Homo sapiens: one gene and its partner. The protein of the gene in region 1 interacts with the protein of each later gene in a pairwise test. Each region holds a gene or a part of one and is shown in the gene's direction. Other genes may lie near its edges. The genes, in order: FAM110B and MEIS3.

Region 1 (14,065 bases):
TGGTTTAGGGATGTTCACGGGATGGAACTCAAAAATGTGTGAAAGGCATTATTACAGTTCTGGGGACAACATATGTGCCTAATAAGAAATGGTCATTACTAATGGGGCATTATTACAGTTCTGGGGACATTGTATGTGCTTAATAGGAAGTGGTCATTACTAACAGGTAATTTTTTAACATAATTTTTGTAGCAATTTATCTAATACACTCACAGAGGAATTCACCCAAAATACTGCTTTTTCTCCCTTCAAATTTAAATGTTTCATAATTTTATTATAACACACATTTTATTTCAGAGTAAATATCATCTTCTGCCCTAAGGCTGTTTACTAGAAATTAAAATATTTTTCAAAAATAAATGTTCTGTATATATTGGCACAGTAAACTTTATCATTTGTGCTAGATTTGCCCTAGAGTACAAGTTTACACAGCTAAAGGAGAAAGCAGTAACATGCAAAGTGCGGACCCTTAAAATGGACCTTGGTAGAAGCACTGGGCACGGCTCCCCAAATCCACACCACCCTGGGTTCTGGTCTGGGCTCTCTCTGCCACTCACCAGTACTCACCCTCTCCTCTATACAAGGGGATCAGACCGCCTTTTAAGGAGGCTCGCTGAGATGAGGTGTGGGAACTCACAGCACAAAGACTTATAAACTGCAGGAGTTACTACCAGAGTTTATAATCACCGAGTTCATTGAGTTGTTATTACTGCTGGAAGGTGTGCCTGGTTCACCCAAAATGGGGAATCCACTAACTCTCAGACTTACAGTAGCCAGCAAGTCCTTTTTTTTTTTTTTTTTTTTTTTTTTAGACAGAGTATTTAGCTGTGTCTCCAGGCTGAAGTTCAGTGATGTGATCTCGGCTCACTGCAACCTCTGCCTCCCAGGCTCAAGCGATTTTCCTGCCTCAGCCTCCTGAGTAGCTGGGATTACAGGCACGTGCCACCACGCCCAGCTAATTTTTGTATTTTTAGTGGAGACGGGGTTTCACCTTGTTGGCCAGGATGGTCTCGATCTCCTGACCTCGTGATCTGCCCACCTCGGCCTCCCAAAGTGCTGGGATTATAGGCGTGAGCCACCGTGCCCCGGCCCAGCAAGTCTTATAAACTCTGTGACTGGAGTAGACTAGTCTGTAAAAAATGACAGTGGTCCCTTGAACTCCACATTCATTTAATATTTGGTCATGGCCTCACACATTGTCACAACTGAGCATGAAGCCACATAAAGCTCTCCACAGGAGAGGAAACACTGGCAGAAAGGGGGATCATTTTATGTTTGTTTGGATAGGGCGGCATTCTTATTGTATTTGCGTAAAGGAATTCTAGTGGCCCTGCTTTTTAATTACTTAAAGTAATTTTCATCAAGCAAGTCATTATATTTCCAAGTGATTCTTGGCACTGGTTATGCGCAGCACTGATTTCTGTAATCCCAGGTAAAAGGCAAGGCTCCCCCTCACTGATGCAAGTTAGGGGCCCTCTTATAATAACACATTCCTTACCTTAGGCCAAGGAAGAATGTCGAACTGGAAATGTGAAATTTTTTTCTGACTCTCTATTTCATTGTAGTTGTCTTAAATAGGACGAAAACATTTTAAAAGAAACTTCTAACATTTTTGTTAATGGCTTTACTTACAAATGAAAATGAAGCATGTGGATGACTTCTCTAAATGACCTTGGAGAATGACATTAAAGTAAAGAATCCATCGTGGATTGAGATTTGACCGGCTATTTTTCTCCTACCACCAGATTTCATTTGTAATAATGGCTTTATTGTTTACTCTAGCCTGTTTCACTCACATAACTGTTTGCTTTGAAATTTGAAACTACATATTTTCTCTGTAACTCAAATAAAAATGGGGTCATACAAGTGACCTTTTAGCCAGAAACTGCATGGTCAATCCTCTTTGACAGAAATAGCACAGGCCGTATCACTTGAGAGTAATGGAATCCTTTTAAGACAAAAGATCATTCATTTACCATAAACCTTGAAATCTAATGATGGTGATTATCAATGCCAAGTTGCAGACACTGGGGACAGCATTTAATAATAGCTTACATTGGCCAGGCACGGTGGCTCATGCCTGTAATCCCAGCACTTTGGGAGGCCAAGGCAGGCGGATCACCTTAGGTCAGGAGTTTGAGACCAGCCTGGCCAACATGGTAAAACCCCGTCTCTACTAAAAATACCAAAAATTAGCCAGGCGTAGTGGCAGGCGCCTGTAATCCCAGCTACTCAGAAGGCTGAGACAGGAGAATCATTTGAAATAGGAGGCGGAGGTTGCAGTGAGCTAAGATTGCGCCATTGCACTCCAGCCTGGGCAACACAGTGAGCCTCCGTCTTAAAAAAAAAAACAGCTTACGTTTACTGAACAATTTCTGGGCTGAGCTCCTGACCAAGCACTTTCATGTGTCACCTCAAGGAATTCTCACCCCAGCCAGTGAAGTGTAGGAATCATGGTTATCAATGTTCCATAAATGAGGAAACTCAGGTACACTAGCTGGAGAAACTTGCTCAGGGTCAAGTGTCCTGTGTTCTTTTTCCGTGCCCTAAGCATTTGCCCCACTGAATTCTCATTTCTTTGCCTGGATGAAATCTCAGACAGGACCTGTAGCCTTTTCAGTTCGTCTTCAATAATTTAGTCCCCAGATCAGTTTCAGACCTGGAAGAGTGCTGCCTCACATCAAGATCAAAACTCCACCTCTGGTCCAGTTAAACTGGTTTCTCTTCTCCCAGCTCAGGGCCGCATTGGCTTGGAGACCCTGTGAAGAAGAAGCATCATTTTCCCCTTTACTTGCTCCAGCTCCTCTCCTGCTCCTTATCAGACGGCTCTACCAGCCTCTACTGGGCAGACCCTGCATTGCGTAATGAGCAAGGGACGGACAGAGCATTCAGCGGAAGTGACAAGGTTTCTCTCCCTGGCTCTTGCAGTGGGAATCAATGTCCCCTGGGCATGGCACATTTCAGAGCTGGTTCTCTCTGGGAGCTTTTGGGTTCCGTGGAGGCAGCCACGCCTCTGCTCAGCTAGTGGATGCCCCCAGCCTTCTCAGAGGAGGGCTTTGGGCAGACATTGTTTTCTGTTGGCCTCCTTTGAGGGGACTTCTTTGAGAATACTCCTAGACCACCTTTCCCCGGCACATGTGTGGGCCGAGCAAACCCTCATTTTTGTGCCTGTGGAAAGGCAGCTTCATCCTGCCTGTGTGATCTGGTTAGAGAGTCCATTACAGACTCTGCCCTTAGACTTCTCAGACTGGAGGTATAAGCCAGTTCCCAGGCTCCTCAGCTCCAAGGGGCCTGTGTTGGGCTTTTTTGGGTGGCCTTGAATTCAGCCCCAGCCAGTGTGAGATGAGAGGAGGCTATGGCCACCATTGTGTAACTGAGCACCGAGTGAAGGGCTTTAGGCAAAGCTATTCCCATTCCAGTAGACTTGCTAGCTTGCTTCGCCCACCTGACATCCTGTGAAACCTTTGTGGGTAACAAACTGTACCCAGTCCACTCCCTCCTGACTTGCCACTTGGAGGATCCTGTCACAACGTAGTGCATATTCACTTAAGTCAAAATAACTTTTCCGTTTGATCAACACGCCTGTGTGAGTTTTGTGCTGTTGCACTAGTATTCCTCAGCACACCTCAGGAGCACCACTGGGGTGGACATTCCTTGACCTGTATCTGTAAAAACGTTAGAAGGTAAAAGTTGGCCTTCCCTGCATCTCTACACCTGGTTCAACATTTGCTTCCCATCCTCTGGTCATATAGAGTAGATGTGTCAAAAGAAACAAGACTTTAAAAGGTTGCTGAAAAAGTGGAGAAATGATTTACTCATCTTGTCGAAAAAATTAAAGTGCCTAATTAAAACAAAATAATGGAAACACAGAGCAAGAGGATACTTTATTAAATAACATTGGAAGACCTACTGTAGTCAGCTGAAAGAATACGCTAAAATATGACTAGACTACTGGAATGAGAAGTTTAAATATTATTAGGAAAAGTCTGTGGTTTTAAAGAATTTATAACATGATAGTGTTGTTGTCAAGAAGATTATTTTACTTGCAATCCGGAGCTGATTGCTGATGGCAATGCTAAGGTCAGAAAGAGAAGATTCAGGCATCAGAATTATAGATGGTGAGGGATTTCACCATGGAGATAAGAAAGAAAAAGACACAGCATTCAGTAATTGGAAAAGTGCAGGTCCTGAAAGGGTGATGGTTTTGACTTAATGTTTCCAGATGGTTGGCCCTCTGATTTCATACTTTCTGTCCAATTTATAGTGTGCAAAGTCAGTCTTTTTTGGTCAGCCTTTTACTCCTCCATTCGCTCTTTCACTTTTCTCCCTTACTTTTGCATTCTTTACAAGTTATGCTCACAGTATAAAAGGGGTTAATGAAAGTGATGATGTGCTTGGAAGAGAAGGAAAAGGGAAGATGTTGAAAAGCATAGCATATATTATGAATTAAAATGAATAAATACTTGGGGAGGCCGAGGTGGGTGGATCATGAGGTCAGGAGATCGAGACCATCCTGGCTAACAACGGTGAAACCCCGTCTCTACTAAAATTACAAAAAAAATTAGCTGGGCATGGTGGCAGCTGCCTGTAGTCCCAGCTACTCGGAAGGCTGAGGCAGGAGAATGGGATGAACCCAGGAGGCGGAGCTTGCAATGAACCAGGATTGTGCCACTGCACTCCAGCCTGGGCAACAGAACGAGACTCTGTTTTAAATAATAATAATAATAATAAATGTCTAAATAAAATGGATAAAGGAAGCAATGGAATGGCATTGCTGTTGGTTAAAAATGGCTCAGGCAGACGGAGCAGCAGGAATGGACACAGTGGGTGTGGAGGGACCACTGTAGTTGTAGTTCTGTTTGGCTTAAGCCCAGGGTGCAGAGGAAGAAGGGAACAAGGATTGGAGGGGAGAGTGTATACTTCCTGCCAACCACTTCTCCGTAGTCAAGTGGGAAGCTGGGAACGACTCATCCTCAACATGTACCTCCTCACCCTCTGCATCCTGTCTGTCTCCCAGTTCAGCCCAGCGTGCCTCTTAAACATCTCTTGAAACTGTCCACTCTTTTCTCCACCCTAAAGCCACCCTCCTGCTAAGAGTGAAGTGAATGAAAATGCCTGTGTGCTCTTATTTAACCCACTCAAAAAGCCCTCAAGAGGTAGGTACTATTGCTATCCCCATTTTCCAGATGGGAAATCTGAGGCACGAGAAGATAAAGTGAACTGCCCAAGGCTACTCAACCATTACGGGGCAGAACCATAGGCAGTGCCATATTGGGCGGTGCTCAGAGCCCAGCTGCCATGACCCCTTCCCTGGGAAGCTCTGACTCACCTCTGTGCAGCCACACTTAATCCCCACTCATCCTGTCCCCATACTGCAGCCAGGGGAGTTTAAAAAAATACAAGTATGACCATGTCACCAATGCTCAATTACCCAATAAAATCCAAAGTCATCTGCCTTTCCGCTACACCTAGTTGGCCTCTGACCGCTGTCCCCTAGCACTCCATACCAGCCACTGGAGTGTCTTGAATGTACCATGAACTCAAAAGCTGCCCTGATGAGGGATGCCCTCGCCTCCTGGGTCTTTATTGGAGTTTGTCTCCTCCTTACCCTTCCTTTACCTTCAAGTCCTTTGCCACAGTCCTGCCAAATTTATTTTCTACATCATTCATTCGATTCACATTTACCAAATGCATTTTGAATCTTTTTTTTAAGTTCAGGATTTTTCTACGTCTTACACATAATTGCTCCACCAATAGGTACTAATTAATTGAACACAGCCATAATTCAGTCAGTACTCTTGTATTGTAAATGAATCTCTCTTCCATTTGTAAAGAATCCAAAAGTTCACATTGCCGTGGGAAACTGCATTTTTACTTCAAAGACAAGGATGCGACTGTTCTTAAAAGGGAAGCCAAGAGTATAGATATGAGAGTGATCAGAGTCAAGTTGGAACCTGATGCTTAAAGTTAGTAAGCACAAATACTATTACCAGAAAAATCAAAAAGCAGTGTTCCAGAGAACAGTTTTACACATATTGTAAACGTTTTGTTATCTGGCATGTTAGGAAGCTAGAAGAATCAGTTCTAGAATTCTTAATAACTTCAAAGGTAAATTGCTTCTTTTATTTGCTCCCAAGAATGTTTGAGCTAAAGACATTTTTCAGCTCACCAGATTGAACACATTTGTTTTTATAGATAAGAAAATCAAGACACTTAGATGTTAGGTGACTTAGAGCTGAATTACTCAGCCTTGCTCTTTCAATACCCCCCTTTTCCTGCTGTGAGACACAGGGGAATTACTCATTCTCACATAGAAACTTCTGTGGGTGAATCCAGGTTGTGTTCAGTTCCCAGGGCCCTTGCTCTAACTCCAGTGCTTTCTTTCCTACTTAAAATTTAAAGACTAATTAGGCATTAACTATCCTTTTCTTTTTCATTACCAGAAGCACTCTTTAAAGAGGAAGTAACAAAACAGCAGCCCAAATGTGGCCAACAGTGTTTTTAATATTGAATTTTTAAATCGGGAGAGTTTGTGCAGAGCTCTGGATTTGCTGTTGCGTCAACAATGAGCCACATTCCCCATGGCAGCCCGTAGCGGGGGGCTCCTTTCCGAAGGCCACACACTCTCCCATTATCTGCCTGGCCTCAGAGGCTTTGAGGCACAAATTGCCCGGATTACAGGAACTTTGGCTTTAGCATTTTTTTCAAATAAACTGTGTATGAGGTTCATTCTCTATATCTAACCACCTCCAGGATTGCAAATGTTCTTGAGGTCTCCCCAAGGTTATAGTTCAGCTGAGGGTCCTGTTCACCTGACTGCACCTGTTCACCTGACTGCACCTGTGAGGAGCTGGCAGATGGGAAGTTAGAAAGGTTCAGGCCACTTTGGTTTTAAAAACTTGGAATTCTCTGAGATTGCTATTTCTGTGCCTAAAAAGCTCAGACTTTTGCTCATTCAGAGACAAGTAACTTTGGCCTGTTTCCTCTGTGCTGGAGGCATTTGGGTTCTAATGGGATGCTGGCTAGCACAGAAATGGGCTTCCCCCCTTTCCTGTTGCTACTCAAAGGCAACAAACAGCATCACCTGGGATCTGGTGAGAAATGCGTAATCTGGGTCTCACCCGAAATCTACCAAATCAGACTGTGCTTTAAGGAGATCCTTGAGGGGTCTGCAGGCCCATTAAAGTTTGAGAAGCACCACTAGAGTGAGTAGTGGGAGATAACATTGCTCTTCCTTGTCCTTGGGTCCTTTGTCCCCCAGCTGGCTCTATGTGCCACCTGTTCTCCCTGCACAAACCAGGACTCCCCCACAGATGATGTGCTCCCCCACCCCGACCCCTGCCACCATCACCCCCAGGCCAGATTGCTTTTGAGTTCACATTTGAGTTCATATCTGCTCTGATTCAGCGAACCATTAGCACCTTGGCTCTGCCAAGTTTCTTTTCCCCAGTCCTTTTTATCCCTTCATGAAATTTTCAAATGGATGTTAAACAGGGTAGAATGTAGCCAAGATGGTTTATGAATCGAAGTTTCTCCCACCCTCAGGCTGTGTTCTCTGTCCTGAGTCATAAGTCAAGGATCAGGCAAGGCTATATAATTATTTTTGTTGATGAAACCCTACGGGGCCAAGATCTAATTTTCCTTCCTCAAAACAACACGAAGCCCCTCTCAGCCTGGCGGTTGGCCTATCCCATCAGTGCCTGACTGCACCTCAGGGGGCCTGTTCAGGACATCAGAGGGCTGACAGCAAGGCCACAGCCAGTAGAGTATCATGTGCCACAGTGCTCTCTGAACAGACGTCATGGTTATCTCGTACAAAGTCTACACTACAAAACTCAGAGTATTTCTCCAGCACTGTATAGCTCTGTCCCAGCCCACACTGTTTCACAGTAAAAAATAAAAGAACCAGAGTTAAGGATTAAGTAAATATTACAAGAGACAGCAACCTAAGTCACCTGCTTATTTTTGAAGTAGGTTTACTTTGTTGGCTAAACCAGGTAGAAAACTTGGAGTATGCCTTAGTATCCCACAACACCCCAAACAGTATCTTTAGTTTGTTCTGTTGCTTTTGGGTCTTCCAATAAGATGAAGTTGTTTTTTTTCCTTCCCAGAGTTCACATCAAAACTATAAACTCTAACCATGGTCATGTCAAAACATCATCACTGTGTTGAAAATTATTAGGGAAATTGGGAATAGCAGAGGAGGAGTGGGAAGGGGTAGAAGCCAAAAGGAAATGAAGTATGAAATACTTGCAGATAATTGCTATGTGTGACATAATTCTTTCACACAGATTTTAAGATTAGTAATTGTTGAGGGGTGTGGAACAATTGTGAGTGCTGGAGGAGCCGTCTTGAGGGTGTCTGCCACATGAATAGAGAAAGCAGTGTGCAAGGAAGACAAGCAGCTTTCTGGAAAATGCTTCTTAGAAGATAGACTGGTATTCCTCACTCTTGTGAATCGACAGTCAGGCTTTTTATTCAGTGTTGCCAACAGTACCAAAGCCTACCTTAACAGACACGCAGGTGTGCATGGAAGGCCACGCCAGTGGTGTAGGTGTTTTAGGCTTCTGGTCCTAATATGATAGAACTAGAAGAGAAGATGGTTAGAAGAGAAGCACAGGCCTGCATGAGGAGGAATGTTACATGAGAACTACAACTCATCTTCAGAGAGCGTTGGCCTAAGAACAGTCAGTGCGGGACCATAGAAAAATTCAGTCATTCACCAATATTCCAACACGCCATTTTGAAACTGGAAGTAATTCCTTCATTCTTAGATCCTCAGAACCTCACGATTTTACAGTACGAAGGGATTGAAGGAATCTTGTCCAACTAACTCGTGCCCCAGGAGAAGGGAGATGAACTTTGTCTCCCACTGCCCACTAGGTGGTATTCCCACTCTAGTCCTCAGGCACAAAGCTGAAGGTTGCAGATCTTGGTCCTGCCCCTCACTGTGCCCCCAAACTTTCTGGTATTGTCCTGGGGTCAGCCCTCTCCCAAGGGTCCCGGGTATGATGACCTCGGAGTTGCATCCTGGCCCAGGCTCTGCTGCCTGTTCTGGCTCTGAGTCTCTTCTGTAAAGAGGATGAGATTGTGCCTCCAGAGGAATCGGGGCTCCCTTCTGGCATTTCATTCAAAATGTGTTCAAAGAAACAATCTCATTTCATCTTAATGGGAGGAGGTGTTTTTTGTTTTTTATACTAAATTGAGGTATCAAAATAGAACCGCACAATTAAAGGAAATTGTTAATGTAGGTATTGCCTTGGGGTTTCTCAAATCTTGCACAGGAAAATATTTTTATTAGAACAAATCCCTTCACAGATTACTAAAATTATCTCTAACAAAACATGGTGATGGGTTGCATTTACAGATTTAAGAATTTCAGGAAATTATAAGGAGAAATACCAGCAGATGTGGTTGTAATATGACTTTATTTATTTTGTAAATTAGTTATTTGGCATGTTAGTTGAATAGGTTACTCTCTTAGCATTCCTAATTATAACCAAAGATGCTGTTAAGGTCATTAGCCCCTTGCTTTGGAGTGCTGATGCATTTGTAAATGTTCTCTGCCTGCAGTAACAGGCTATGGGAGGAATTGTTTCCAGGGGCTGCAGGGTAAGAGTTACATTATATGGCATATGAAATAAAAAGACTCCTTACAGAATTACAGTAGGAATATTGATAAACGTTCAACTATTGACAAGTGGGTTTTATTGTTGTTGTTGGCTTGGTAGTCAAGTTGTCCCATGAAAGCTTACCTATTACCCAAGTTTTCTATAGTATTAAAGTAACATATTTTTAGGTATGATTGGACACTTTTAAGACTTTGTTCCTAGTACTGTAGAGGATTTGGGAATATACATACCATGAAGAAACTTTTGATTTCTGCTCATTAAGTATGAAAAATTATGGATAACTTAGGGACAATCAAATTATCTACTCATATGGTAAATTTGGAAGTATTTCTATGGATCTTCTAATGTTAAAAAAAAATAAGCTTGTGTTTAATGGGTGGAACTCCATACACATTTGTGGTTTTCAGGAGAAAGTTTTTAAATATATTGGTTGGCCAAAGTAAGATAACTGAAACGTGTTGAGGTTTTTTTTTTTTTTTTAAACTTTGTAGCTTTGCTGCCAATCCCATTTCTTGCCCTTTTCAGTTTATGAAGTTAAAAAAGTGACTGTTGCAAGTATTCCTGAGAAATTGGTAGTACAGAGGGAGAAGTTTTGCTTCATTGCAAAAGAGATAATTCACGACGTTGCAACCGGGGGGCATGGAAGGGATTCGTAGGAACTCAGTGGCATGTAATGAGCTGGGGAACAGGGCTTGGCTAAGCCCTCATTCCTACGTTCATCAAGTATTTGCTGGGTTTTGAGCTGAGAAATGCCAACCGGGCGTGTTCAGAAGGCGGATCTCACCAATCCGGAGGCAGCTGGAAGAGTTCGCGCGTGGGAAACCTCAGCCCTTTCTTTCTTCCCGGCACAGCGTTGTGCTGCCGCGCGTCGGCGCAGGCGGGGGCGCAAGGCCCGGGTCGTCCCCCTCGCGCGGTCGGGAAAACAGCTACTGAGCTGCGGCCCACGACCCTCGGCCGCGCAGGGGCGGGGCGGGGGCGCTGCGGGGTTTCTCTGTTGCTAGAGCCGTGATGTCACCCGCCCCTCCTAACCCGCGGTTGGTTGTTTTGTGTTTCAGCTCTGCCTGCAGTTGAACACAAAGACCTGGAGGAGACTCCCACCTCCTTCAGGGAGAAGAAAGGAGGCAGCGAAGCAGATTAAAGGAACTTGTGGCTTGTGGCCTTTTTGTGCAAGGGCCGCCTGGAAGGGGAGAAAAGTGTATGAAAGCCACCGTGGCGGTTAATGAGCTGTGAGATGAGGCGCTGCTGCGGCCGCTGCTGCTGACACTCGCTCCCAGGCTGCACCCGCCGCCCTTGGCGCTTCATGTACATGTGTCTATTCAGGCCTTGCGGAGGCGCCCAGAAGAGCATCCAACACGGCTGCCGGGGAAAGACCGCCCACCATGCCCACGGAGACCCTACAGACAGGTAGCATGGTGAAGCCGGTCAGCCCCGCGGGCACCTTCACCTCTGCTGTGCCCCTGCGCATCCTGAACAAGGGGCCAGACTACTTCCGCAGGCAGGCCGAGCCCAACCCCAAGAGGCTCAGCGCCGTGGAGAGGCTGGAGGCCGACAAGGCCAAGTACGTCAAGAGCCAGGAGGTGATCAACGCCAAGCAGGAGCCCGTGAAGCCCGCCGTGCTGGCCAAGCCCCCGGTGTGCCCGGCTGCCAAGCGCGCACTGGGCAGCCCCACGCTCAAAGTGTTCGGCAACCACGCCAAGACCGAGAGCGGCGTGCAGAGGGAGAACCTGAAGCTGGAGATCCTGAAGAACATCATCAATAGCTCCGAGGGCTCTAGCTCGGGCTCGGGGCACAAGCACAGCTCCCGCAACTGGCCGCCCCACCGGTCGGAAGCCACTGACCTGCACCGTCACTCCTTCGCGGAGTCCCTGAAGGTCTACCCCACGCAGGGCCGCAGGAGCCCGCAGGAGGGCGGCTCCCACGTGGGCAGGAGACTGCTGGAGCAGTCAGCCGAGTCCTTCCTCCACGTGTCCCACAGCTCTTCGGACATCCGCAAGGTGACCAGCGTGAAGCCCCTCAAGGCCATCCCCTGCAGTAGCTCTGCCCCTCCCCTGCCTCCCAAGCCCAAAATCGCAGCCATCGCCTCCATGAAGTCCCCCGAGGCCGACCCTGTGGAACCAGCTTGTGGAGTCAGCCGAAGACCCTCCCTCCAGCGGTCTAAGTCAGACTTGAGTGACAGATATTTCCGAGTGGACGCGGACGTGGAGAGGTTCTTCAACTACTGTGGACTGGACCCGGAAGAGCTGGAAAACCTGGGAATGGAAAACTTTGCAAGGGCTAATTCTGACATAATATCCCTCAACTTCCGCAGCGCAAGCATGATCAGCTCAGACTGTGAACAGTCTCAGGACAGTAACAGTGACCTTAGAAATGATGACAGTGCCAATGACCGCGTGCCGTATGGCATTTCTGCCATCGAAAGAAATGCTAGAATCATCAAGTGGTTATATAGCATCAAACAAGCTAGAGAGTCACAGAAGGTCTCCCATGTGTAAGACAGTGCGTGGAAAGGAGGGAGCGTGGGTCTCTGTGCTTACGCAGTTGTGAAGGTTGTGAGGTCTCCTTGAAGTGTTGTGAGCTTCTCCACTCTTTGTGTTGCTTGTTGTGCAATGTTTTCAAGTTGCATGCTTGTCAACATGGGGACTGACCTGGCTTCCACGTCACCATCGCTACAGAGCCTGGCTGAACACGCGTCATCTGCCAAAAGTTTCAGGCCAGAATCTAATTAGGGCTTTGCTCGTAAGCAAAACTGTTTACATGAAAATGGTATACAACTTCTTCGATATTTATGTGGTTCTTGTGTTTTTATATCCCGCGCTATTGTGTCTTAATTAAAAGTTTTATCAACTGGCTTTTAAGTTGAGAGCAGAATCTTTTTGAAATAAAAAGCCACTTTGCCTACATGTGAGACTATTCCAGTGGGACAGTAAATGGGATCTGCTACCAAACAGATAATGACTGACCGAACATAGAACCAGGCTGGGTTTTCTGTGGAATAAAGTGGTGAGCCTGACGTTAATCGTTTACATGTTGAAATTCTCTTGCCACTTAGTGAAGCAGTCATTGGGGTAACAATGCTACGTTTTGTGTCCGATTCAGTGTGTAAACGTTGGTGGTTCTATGTAATACTGACCCCAAGGAAAGACGATCAGATACAAAGAAAGATGGTTAAATCTAGGAGGTTGGGTGTTTGGGGGTTTTGTTGATGTTGTTCTGATTGGGATAATTCAGAAATTCCTAATATTATCTTTCGACAGAATGACCACCCTAAAACAAATACTGAATGCCTTTAAAAAAAAAAAAAGTTGTGGTTTTTTGTTTTTTTTTTTTTTTTTTTTGGTCGAGAACTACTAATTTCATGCTATTTCTTTCTCTCTCCCTTTGTTGTTATTTGATTTGGGGGAAGGGAGTGAGGCTTGTGCAGATTTGAGCTATCTGAAGACATGAACAGAAGTCAAATACCAGCCATATCAGTAGAGCCTTCCATTCAAAAGTGAACACACTTGGTAGCTGAACCATATCTGAGCAGCGTGATTCTGTTGTCTTGCATATGTTATTCTCTCAGGCTGTGGATCTTTGTTACAGCTCTAGGAAACTGTAGAAATACAATGCTATGTAGCTTTTCCACCCCATGGTCTCTAGTGCTGCCTATCAACTTGTCCCCTTTTTTCCCAATAACCTGTCTTCCAGGTGGTACAGTTAGCTGTCACTCAGCTGACACCATGATGTGGCAGCAGAGAGGGAAACCTACAAGTGGTTTGCCTCATTGCCTTTGCCACATCTGAAGTTCTCAGCAGCACTACCTTAGACTTCATGAGCTAATAGGAAACTTTTTATGGTGTAAATGCTGTAAGACTTTGTACATACTTCAGTTGTTATGAAATCTTTAAAGAAAAAAAGAAAAAGTTACGCTAATAAATTGCTGTGGTGCAGGCACTAATGGTGGTGGTTTCTCTTTGTCCTGTATTGCACAAAAGTTTAACTTTGGACTATGAAACAGAAGCAGATTTTTGATAGGCTTGAAGAAACATTATTTCATTAAGTTATTTTCACCATATTCCAATTACTCTAAACACCAGTGTTCTTAATTGTGGCTCTAGCAATGTGCTTTTGCTAAACTGATTACATCAAGGTTCCTAAAATGTGCTGCAGCATCTCAGTTCACACTTGTGTTATTTTTGTCTTTTCTTAAACATCAGGATTTTTTACATCTTCCACACAACTCTTCAGTTATAAATATTTTGAGTTCTCACCTTGGAGGCACACCTTTGAAATGTATGGCTTCGTTTTTATTTGTACCAGCCCAACATCCCTACCATGGCATGTGTTCACACACTCGCTCCTCCACTCCTTCCTTCATTCCTCTTCAAAATGTCACTGTTTGAGTGACTCATTTCAGGTATCATGGTAGGCACGGGACTGCCATAGTCAACAAC
Region 2 (11,197 bases), on another chromosome or scaffold:
AAGGCTGGAGCAGGGACAGAGGCAGCAGACGAGGGGAGAGGGGAGTAGGAGGGTGGGAGGGCGATGGTGAGAAGGGAGTGGTTGAGAGAGAGAATGGATGGGGCTGCGTGAGGGAGTTCAGGGAGTGCATCTTGGCAGGAGAGAGGTGGTGTGTTCATTCAAACGGAGTAGCCAGGGAGAGTTGGGTGAAAGGGCTACTGAGGAGTGGGCAGGGTTGGGGAAAACGAGGGAAGGTGTAGTACCCCAGGGCTAGCAGCAGAGGGAGCAGTTGCCATACCTGGGCTAGAAGGGGTGAGCAGAGGCACCCGAGGCTGCAGAGACCTGGGGACCTGAGTCTGTAGAGTAGAAGAGTACAGGCATCACCAACCTGCACTGGGGATAGCGGGGCGCCGGGAGAGTAAGCACCTCGACCTCATTCTGCTCCCACCTGCTAGTCTCCTGCCACTTCCTCCCACCGGCCGCACCCAACCTGAAGTCCAAGGTAAGACAATAGGCCCACGGCATGGTGGCTCACGCCTGTAATCCCAGCACTTTGGGAAGCCAAAGCAGAAGGGTCGCTTGAGCCTAGGAATTCAAGACCAGCCTGGACAACATAGCGAGTCCTCGTGTCTCCACAAACTTTAAAAGTTAGCCAAGCGTGGTGGCATGTGCCTGTAGTCCCAGATACTCAGGAGGCTGAAGCAGGAGGATTGCTTGAGCCCAGGAGGTCGAGGCTGCCGTGAGCTAGGACTGCACCACTGCACTCCAGCCTGAGTGACAGAGAAAAACCCTGTCTCCCCACTACCAAAAAAAAAAAAAAATCGACCTTTGGCTTTAGGCCTTGATGAGAACAGGTTTGTGGAAGGTGTAGGGGCAGACGGTGCACTGATCTGCAGTGGGAGGTGGGGAAATTGAGTCAGGGCATGTAGATCACTCTCTGGAGAGTCCTGATGTGAGGAGGGGAGGTTGCTGGAGGAGCAGTAGAGGGCATTGACTACAGGGGCACAGGAAAGCAAGGGAGGCCTGTGCTAACAGCAGCTGGCAGTGATGGGGACCCCCCCAAGCATGATCTGCTTAAACCTATTGCCAGTTCTATACATCACCCCATTCCACGGAAGAGGAAACTAAGGCTCAGAGAGGTGAAGCAATGTGCCCAAAGTTTCACAGGTAGAAGGGCAAAGATGGGACAGGATGAGTTCCACGATGTAGAATGGGACAAGGGACACCTTCAAATTTTTTTTTTTTTAGATGGAGTTTCACTCCTTTTGCCTAGGCTGGAGTGCAATGGCGCGATCTCGGCTCACTGCAACCTCCACCTCCCGGGTTCAAACGATTTTCCTGCCTCAGCCTCCCAAGTAGCTGGGATTACAGGCGCCCGCCACCACACCTGGCCAATTGTTGTATTTTTAGTAGAGACAGGTTTTACCATGTTGCCCAGGCTGTTCTCAAACTCCTTTGAACTCCTTACCTCAGGTCATCCACCCACCTCAGCCTCCCAAAGTGAACTACTGTAATCCCAAAGGATTACAGGCGTGAACCATCGTGCCAGGTCTGGGACACCTTCATCTTAACAAATGCAAACAAAGGGGGTGTAGAGTCTTGGTGCAGGAAGATGAGTAAGGTCTCAGCTGCAAAGAGAGACACATTGAGAGCTTGAGGCTTGGAAAACATGAGGACTTTCACACCTGTCCCGTCACCTCACCCCGAAGGTCATGATTCTCACCTGGATGCAAAGAGCTCTATGGGGTCAGCTTGGGAGTGATTAACATTGTCCTGGGAGGCAGCATAGTGTAGCGGCTGACTTTCTCTGTGCCTCAGTTCCCTCATCTGGAAAATGCGTGATGATGATGCTAACAGTACCTATGTCACAGGGTTGTCGTGGGGATTAAATGAATATATATTAGCCTCCCAGGCCGGGTGTGGTGGCTCATGTCTGTTATCCCAGCACTTTGGGAGGCCAAGGTGGGAGGATTGTTTGAGCCCAGAAGTTCGACACCAGCCTGGGCAACACAGTGAGACCCCATCTCTACTAAAAATAAAAATTATCTAGGCATCGTGGTGCACACCTGTAGTCCTAGCTGCTCCAGAGGCTGGGGTGGGAGGATCACTTGAGCCCACAAGGTTGAGGCTGCAGTGAGTCATGATCATGCCACTGCACTGCAGCCTAGGTGACAGAGTGAGACCCTGTCTCAAAAAACAAACAAATGAACAAAACCCAAGCAAAACCTAAAAGTCATCTGGAGGCAGAACTCCTTCTTCCTGGAGGGACCTCAGTCTTAAGGCCTTCAACTGATTGGATAAGGCCCACCCATACAATCTGCTTCACTCAAAGTCAATCGATATTAAATGTTAATCTCATTTTTTTTATTTTTGAGATGGAGTCTGGCTCTGTCGCCCAGGCTGCAGTGCAGTGGTGCGATCTCAGCTCACTGCAAGCTCCGCCTCCCAGGTTCACGCCATTCTCCTGGCTCAGCCTCCCGAGTGGCTGGGACTATGAGTAGCTGGGACTACAGGCGCCGGCCACCACGCCCGGCTAATTTTTTGTATTTTTAGTACAGACGGGGCTTCACCGCATTAGCCAGAATGGTCTCGATCTCCTGACCTTGTGATCCACCCACCTCGGCCTCCCAAAGTGAGCCACCGCGCCCGGCTATTAATCTCATTTTTAAAATACCTTTACAATGGCTGGGCGTGGTAGCTCACACCTGTAGTCCCAGCTATTCAGGAGGCTGAGGTGGGAGAATCGCTTGAACCCGGGAGGCAGAGGTTGCAGTGAGCCAAGATTGCACCACTGCACTCCAACCCGGGCAACAGAGCAAGACCCTGTCTCAAACACACACACACCCCTTCACAGCAACATCTAGGCTGATGCCTGAACATGAGGGCAGCACAGCCTAGCCACGTAGACACATATGATTCACCACCACGAGAGGTCCCTCTTTTCCCTTTGTTTCCTCTCTGCCCATCCATCATGCCCCCGCTGGCCACCGTCTTAGGCTGAGCACCAACAGAAGCCAGCCCACAGCAAGGATGGGAGGGAAATAGTTTATTTGTGAGGTGATCCCAGGAGGCACTGGAGGGAGATGGGAAAGAAAACCATTAAAGGTGGTGTTGAAGGCTGGGCGCGGTGGCTCACGCCTGTAATCCCAGCACTTTGGGAGGCCAAGGTGGGCGGATCACCTGAGGTCAGGAGTTCAAGACCAGCCTGGCCAACATGGTGAAACCCCATCTCTACTAAAAATACAAAAATTAGCCGGGCACGGTGGCAGGTGGCTATAATCCCAGCTACTCGGGAGGCTGAGGCAGGAGGATCACTTGAACCCAGGAGGCAGAGTCTGCAGTGAGCCGAGATCACACCACTGCACTCCAGCCTGGGTGACAGACCGAGACTCCATCTCAAATAAATAAATAAATAAATAATAAAGGCAGTGTTGAATGAGCAGGTCACCCTGTGGACAATGAGGTCTCCATCCTGCTGGGGACCTCTCAGGGAACTCTGGAGTTCCCCACCTGAAGACTTTGGGTTATGTATCCACTAACTCCTGTCTGATGGTGGCCCAGGACCTCTTTAGGGGTGCTGACTTCTAGCGCCTCCTACCCTGGTCTGGAAAGCATTCAGGGAAGGGTCGCAGGTGCCAGCGTGAGAGATGCTGTTGGGTCCTAGGTGGTATGAGTGGGTCAGAGACAGCCTCTGCTATGATTACTTCCCAGAACGGGGGTCTCACTACCTCCCTCTTCCAGTAAGGCAATGGGTGGCCACCAGCACAGCACTGACTGTGCCCAGGTTGCCCTCTCTCCTGGTCTGATGCCCCCAGCTCCCTCCTCGGCCTCTCCCAGGGAATCGGGAAGGGTTGGTACCTGGCATCTCCTCCACGTTCTGCCGTCCCCCTGAGGATTGAAATCAGACACTAGGGAGGACTTCCAGGCACACATGGCCAAAGGAGAGAGGGATGAGGCTCCAGGCTTCAGTGCCTCCCAAGGTACCTCCTCACTCTCTCCTTCTCGCCACCTTTGCCTCCCGTTCCCTGCCTGCTCCCTGCAATTCTCTCCCTGGGGAAGTGCGGGGAAGGGAATGTCATGGGTGGTGGATTGAAAGGGGTAGGTGGGGTCAGTAGAGGGGGAACACAGACGGTGGAGGAGGTGGAGAAGGGACACAAAAAGAGGAGGGGAAGTTGGAGAGGGAGCAGAGAGCCAAGAACAAAACACAGGGGCCGGAGAGGCAGCAGAGACAGAGATACAGACAGGATGCAGAGAAGATGCAGACGGAGGAAGCCCAGAGACTCAGAACACAGCACCAGGGAGGAGAGCGAGGTGGGGAGCGGGGCGGGGCGGGCGTCCCAGGGCGCCAGGGCAAGACCCTCACCCCATTCCCAGCACACAAAGCCAGTGAGGCCAACGCCGAGGGTACTCTCAGAGACCAGAGATTTAAAAGGCACGGCTGGGCCGACAGAGCCCATGGCAGACAGAGGGACATGGAGAGACAGGGAGAGAGACACACAGAGACAGAGGGAGAGACAGAGAGAGATGGAGAGACAGAGAGAGATGGAGAGACAGAGAGAGAGGGAGGGACAGAGAGAGAAATGGAGAGACAGAGAGAGACAGAGACAGAGAGAAATGGAGAGACAGAGAGATGGTGAGACAGACAGAAATGGAGAGACAGACCCCAAGAGGGAGAGACAGAGAGAGATGGAGAGAGAGGGAGAGACAGAGAGAGAGGGAGAGAGAGGGAGAGACAGAAAGAGAGAGACAGAGAGAAATGGAGAGACAGAGAGGGAGAGATAGAGATGAAGAGACAGAGAAGGAGAGACACAGAGAGAAATGGAGAGACAGAGAGCAAGAGGGAGAGACAGATGGAGAGAGAGGTAGAGACAGAGAGATGGAGAGACAGAGAAAGAAATGGAGAGACAGAGAGGGAGAGACAGAGATGAAGAGACAGAGAGAGAAGGAGAGACAGAGAGAGATAGAGAGACAGAGATGGAGAGACAGAGAGAGATGGAGAGACAGAGAGATGGAGAGACAGAGAGAGAGGGAGAGACAGAGATGGAGAGACAGAGAGAGAGGGAGCAACAGAGAGATGAAGAGACACAGAGAGGGAGAGACAGAGGGAGAGACAGAGTGGAGAGACAGAGAGAGAGATGGAGAGGCAGAGAGGGAGAGACAGAGAGAGATGAGAGACAGAGAGGGAGAGACAGACGGGCAGAGACAGAGAGATACAGTTATAGAGAGACACAGAGACAGAGTCAGAACTGGAAAGAGACTCAGTAAGAGAGAGACAGAGACAGAAGGAGAGAAGGAGAGAGGGTGAGGAAAAGGAGGATGAGGAGGAGGACGGACCGGAGACAGGACCCAGAGGCACAGCGAGAAACTGGCAGAGGAAAGCAGATTCCAACAAAAAAGACGGAGAGGGCGAGGAGAGATAGAAAGGGAAGGAAAAGAGGGAGAGAGGGGTCTCGGTGGGAGCCGCAGCCTGTGCCCCGCCCCCCGCCCGGGTCAGGCCGGGTCCTTCCCGCCACCGCTGAGCCGTGGCTAATGGTATGATTGCTTGGTGGGGCGGGAGGGGAAGGGGGCGGCAGGCATTTGTCAGGGCCGGTGACGAATGAGCCACAGGAGTCTGGGCTCGGGTGATGGATGGCGTGGCCAGCGGGCGGAGGGGCGGGCGCAGGGGTGGGCGCCCCCACCAAGATAAATGTTTCCTTCTCCTGGAGCTGGGCCAGGCAGCGGGAGGACGGGAAGGGGGCGATGTATTTATGAAGGGCCCGGGTGGAGGAGAGGGGAGAGAGCCAGGGAGACAGAAGCCCAGGGAGGATACGGTGGGGGGGACAGGGAGGCGGAGAGAGGGAGAGGAAGGAGGGAGAAGAGACAGAGGCCCCTGGAGAGAGAGACCGAGAAAGATGGAGAGAAAGAGAGATAAGAAAGATGAGGCAGAGAAGACATCCAGACAAAGAGACACAGAGATACAAGAAAAAAAAAAAAAGCCAGGAGACAGACAGACAGACACAGCCCAGGTGACAGACAGACAGACATAGCCCAGGCGGAGATGGAGACAGAGACGGCCTGTCTTTTAGGGTCCCTTCTTCCCCCACCCTCCTGAGCAGAGACACAGATTCTCAGAGAGAGCCTGGAATGAGGAGGAGGAAGCAAACCTGGGCCCCCAGAAGGAGAGAGACAGACACAGAGCGGTTGATAAAGAGGGGAAACCGAGGCAGGAGGCTAGCAGGCCCGAGAGAGAGGACAGGAGGAACCCAAGGTGGATCCTCGTTCATTCGGTCTGCTCCTGTAGGCTTTCAGAGGGGATCCTGGGGACCACTGCGGATCCCCGGGGGACGTGGCTGCCTGGTGGGCATAGCCCCAGTGGTCGGTGCTCAGGTTGGGGCACTGAAGGGCCAGTCCGCTGAGAGATCGCCCAGCCCGTGCTGGGGAGACCCATGAGGTCCCCCAGATCTACTCATAGAGGGCTCCACGCTTCCCGTCTGTAAAACAGGTGCAGGACAGGGCTAGAGGGCGGAGACCCCTGCAGACTGGGAGCTGGGGTCACTCTGATGCCACCCAGGGAGCCACTCAGCCGGGCAGGGAAGACGCTTCCAGACACTGTCACAGGGAGGCCCAAGCACACCCTCGAAGAGCCGACAGGCAGCCGCGACGCAGTGACACAGGCACCCCCGCTCCAGCACCAGGCCTGGCCGCCACCTGCTCCCTCCCCCTGGGAACAGAAGGGTCCCAGGACTATTTAAGGGAGACAGCCAGGAAGAGAGAGAGAGAGAGAGAGAGAGAGAGAGAGAGTGTGTGTGTGTGTGTGTGTGTGTGTGTGTGAGAGAGAGAGAGAGAGAGCGAGAGACAGAGACGGACAGACAGACGGATGGACAGACAGAGGGAAAGACTGGAGGAAGAGCCTCAGAAAGCCGGAGCCTCCCCCCTGCTCCCTCCGTCCCCCGCCGGCATCCTCCATCCTCCCCCAATCAATTTCTCTCCCACACACTTATTTCTCCCTTCCCAACAGCTCGTCTCTTTCTTTAATTAGAAAGATTTATGCTTCAGAGTCCAAGCCCCCTGCTCTTGTTTTGGGGGTGGCAGGGACGACTCCAGGGTCTCTATTGGAGCTCCTGTCCCCCACTCCCTCCCCCTCCTGTCTGTCTCACTCTGTCTGCACCTCTCTCTCTCTCTCCTCCCACCCGCGTCTGTCTCTGTCTCTCTCTCTCTCTGAATCACACCGTCACTGGAGTTACCTCCCTCCCCACTCCAGTTAGGCCCCATCCCCATCCCAGGTGCCCCCTCCCTCCCTTCCTGCTCTGTCCACGCCCCCCACCACTGGCCGTCAGATGAGGCCGCACTTGCTCCTCTAGGTTTCAGAATCAGCCTGGGCTAAGGGGACCTTAGCATGCACCACCCCCCAAAAAAGCAAATAGAGCCAGAGACTCCTAACCCTTGCATCCCTCACCCCAAGTCTTGGCTGAGGGTGAGGTGGGGGTGGAGCAGACCAAAGGGCCTTGTGTCTTTAATTAAAAAGTGATTTAAATTAATTTTCTGCTCCAAAACCCCTATCTGGGGTGCGCCGGCCTTGAGGAAAGGCAAGGCCTCCAGACCCTTCCCCTCGGACTGCCTTAAACGGCCAGCCTCACCGCAGGACAGCCACGGGGGCAGAGCCCGCCGGCATGGGGACCCCCAGACTCAGCCAAGACCCTGAGTCCTGGCACCCTCTAGCTTAACTGTTTCTCCGTTATCCACAGCCCACCCCCGCCGCCCCCAGCGCACTGCCCATCCTGCAGAGGGGGAATCGAGCCTCAGAGAGGGGAGAGCCTACGGTGGGACCAGACTCCAGATTCCCACGTGACCCCTGGAGATGGCCAGGGAGGGGGTCCGTGGTGTGTCCAGGGGGCTCGGAGAACAGAGAGCCAGAGGAGAGAAAGGACGGGAGAAGCGGAGACAGAGAGAGACAAGGAGAGAGAGACTGGGAAAGAGGGAGACTGAGAAACCCGGAGCAGGAACCCCAGCCCTGGGTAGGAGAGGAGGGGCCTGGGGGCACCAGGGCCGCGGTCTCTTCCTCTCCTCCCCCCACAGCCTGCCCCTCCCCGACTCCCACCGGAAGTGCTGCTGCTGCCCTAACCCCAATCCCTCGTGCTGTAGCTCTGCAGGCTCACTCTGGCTCATCCCCTATCCCGCTCCTTGGTGGTTCTGTTTAATTTCCACAAGACAAGGGAGAGACCGGGAACGGGGAGCGCGGCTGCCAGCACCCCTGAGCCGCCGCCGGACCCTCCGTCGCCCCGGGCCGCCCCCCGCCCCCTGCGGTCCCCGGTGTGTCCGTCTCGGGACGGTTCGATTCCCTCCAGAGCCGGGGAAGGGACGGGGGGGGCCCAGAGGAGGGGGCCTCGGGCGCCCCGCCTGCGCCTGCTGCCCCCGCCCCGGCGGCGATGCGCTCCTGGCCGTGACCCCCGCTGGGGGCGGGGGCCGGGGTCCATGCGCGGAGTCCCCACCCGGCCCGGCGCCTGCCGCTGACGGCGGCGGGGGTGGGGGGGCGCGCGCCTGGCCTCCTGCCCACCCCCTGGCGTCAACACCGCGGGCCGTCAGGGGCTGCGGCCCCGGGCTGCGCCCTCCCCCGCGGCCAGGCTCTGGAGGGACCCAGGAGCTGCCGCCGGCCTCAGCCCATGGCCCGGAGGGTAGGTCTCGGGGCGGGGACCCCGCGTCCCGGCCGCTTCCGCACCCCCTGTCCCTGCATCCCCCACTCTCCGGCGCTGGCCCCCATTAGCCCATCCGTCCTCTACACCACCTCGCTCTCTCTCTGCCCCTCCCTCCGCCCCTGGGTCTCCCAGTCCCTGTGTGCCCCCTCTCTGCCCCCAAGTGTCTCTTCCTGGCCCTCGGCCTCGCCTCCTCCCCATCGTTTAGCTTCTCCTTCTCCCTGCCCCTCTGTCCCCCTCTGTCTGCCCCACTCTCCTCCTCCTTTCTGCCTCTCTGTCCCCCTCTCTCTGTCCCTGGTCTCCCCCCTCTTTCTGCCTCTCTATCCCCCTCTCTCTGCCCTCCCCCACCCGCAGTCTCTCTCCTCTGTTCCTGGGCTTCCTCCTCCATCTCAGCCGCCCGCACCTCACCGTCCCCCCTTTTTTCTGCTCTCCTCCGTCCTTCCCTTCGCTCTACTTTTGTTCCAAGCCGCCCCTGCCTCTCCAGGGCTAGGAGTGGGACAGGGGTGGGAGAGGTGGTCTCACCAGGCTGCTGGCCCCACGGAGCCTGTCTCCCTGGGGATGGGAACGGGGATAGAAGACAGGGGAGGAGGCGCGCGCCCGTTTTGGGGGTTCCGGGTAGGCTGTGAGGACCGCTTTTGGTGAGAGTGCCTTGAGCAGCGGGGAGCAGTTGGATTCAACTTCAGGGCACAGGAGAAGTTAGGAGAAGAGGGAGAGGGAAAGAGTGGGACACACAGAACCAGGGTGCCCAGCCAGGCGAGGGTCCGAGGCAGGAACGTTCTAGCCTCTTCCCGTGCGAGTCCTGCTGCCTCTTTGAGCCTCCGTGTCTTCATCACTGAGGAAGGGATTTGACCTGATGAGAGGAAGGTGCCCCTGGCTTCCCAGGTGCATGGTTCTGTGACGACAGGACGCGGTCGTCCTACCCCATAATGGTGTTTCTCTTGGGTGCGCAATCGTGTCTGTATGGTGGTGCGGAGTGACCCTCTCCGGCAACAAGTGCTCACAGCATGAGCCAGGCCCTGTGCTAAATGCCTCATTCATTCATTCATCCATGTGCCAAATGTCTCAATCATGCATTCATTCTTGTGCCTGGTGTTGGGCTGTGTGCATGTGTGTGTGCATGTGTGTGTGGGGGGGGGGATTTGGGTGTGACTGACACATGAGTGTGCACGTGGGTTGGTGTGTATGGCTGTGTCTACATGTGTGGTAGATTCACGTGGCGAGTGGAGTGTGACATGTTGTTGAGACTTACTCTGATGCGCTTATCTGCCAACTGTGAAATGAAATAGAAGACAGGGAGGCTTCGTATGTGTACTTTGTGTACAACAATGCGCGGTTCCTACAGGAGGTGTCCATGGATCTCCCTCTCTGTCTGTCTCTCTCTCTGTCTCTGTCACTGTCTTCTCACGCCACTTTCTCCATCTCTTTTCCCTCCCAGCCAGACCCTGCCGTCTCTCCCTCTGGGTCCTCCTGCCCACATGTCAGGAATCTCTGCCTGGACGGGGTCCTCACTCCCCACCGAGGCAGCTCCAGGGGACCTGGAGGGCTTCAAGCTTGGGGGCTCAGACACCTGGGGACCACAGGCAGGTTTCTGGGACACAGAAGGGCATCTCCTGGGTTCCAGGATAGAGAAGCTCCTCAGCCGAGTCTCGGGGTGCTGACCCCTCCCTGGGGCTCCGCCCTTCTCTTCTCACCTTCCCCCAGTATGATGAGCTGCCGCACTACCCAGGCATCGTGGATGGCCCCGCAGCCCTGGCTAGCTTCCCAGAGACAGTGCCCGCAGTACCAGGGCCCTATGGCCCGCACCGGCCTCCCCAGCCCCTGCCCCCAGGCTTGGACAGCGACGGCCTGAAGAGGGAGAAGGATGAGATCTATGGGTGAGTGGGGCCGGGTCTCAGGCTCCTGTCTCTCTCTCTCTGTCTTTCTGCTTCTTTGCTCCCTGGGTCTGCTTCTGTCTCTCTCTGTGTACGAGTCTCTGTCTCCTTCCCTCTCTGGGTCTCTTGTCCCCTCCCCAGCTGTTCTGCATCTTGGCAGCCCCTCCATCCACCTCCCAGCCTCTCCCTCAACCTCTCTCCTTTCCTGCCTCCCCAGACACCCGCTCTTCCCCCTCTTGGCCCTGGTCTTTGAGAAATGTGAACTGGCTACATGCTCTCCCCGTGACGGGGCCGGAGCTGGGCTGGGGACACCCCCTGGAGGTGACGTCTGCTCCTCTGATTCCTTCAACGAGGACATCGCTGCCTTTGCCAAGCAGGTGGGCACCTCCCACCCACCACACACCGAGTCAGAGAGCCAGCGAGGAGGGGTGGGTGGAAGGCGGGACATCCCCCTGCCGGCCTCTCTCTTCCCTCCCAGGTTCGCTCTGAGAGGCCCCTCTTCTCCTCCAACCCAGAACTGGACAATCTGGTGAGACCCGAGCCCTCCCCCACACCCCCTCCTCCAATGGGTCTCCTTCCCTGACGCCCCATCCCTGGGGTTGGTGGGGGGGGTGCAGAGAGAAGGCCACCTGGTCCATGTCCCCAAACCGTCATGATTGTTGCCCACGTGCCGTGTGG

What was found.
Region 2: the proteins of FAM110B (region 1) and MEIS3 interact in binary tests that used the Homo sapiens proteins (3 or more experiments, as listed by UniProt).

Annotation. Positions count from the first base shown.
Region 1 is NC_000008.11:58,135,220-58,149,284, forward strand, and holds the end of FAM110B (protein FAM110B), read left to right. Parts: intron 1-10,687; 5' UTR 10,688-11,011; coding exon 11,012-12,124; 3' UTR 12,125-13,565; downstream 13,566-14,065. UniProt on the Homo sapiens protein: May be involved in tumor progression.
Region 2 is NC_000019.10:47,416,503-47,427,699, reverse strand, and holds the start of MEIS3 (homeobox protein Meis3), read left to right. Parts: upstream 1-8,172; 5' UTR 8,173-8,618; coding exon 8,619-8,630; exon of another isoform or gene 8,631-9,952; coding exon of another isoform or gene 9,953-10,228; intron 10,229-10,349; coding exon 10,350-10,522; intron 10,523-10,736; coding exon 10,737-10,896; intron 10,897-10,997; coding exon 10,998-11,048; intron 11,049-11,197. UniProt on the Homo sapiens protein: Transcriptional regulator which directly modulates PDPK1 expression, thus promoting survival of pancreatic beta-cells. Also regulates expression of NDFIP1, BNIP3, and CCNG1.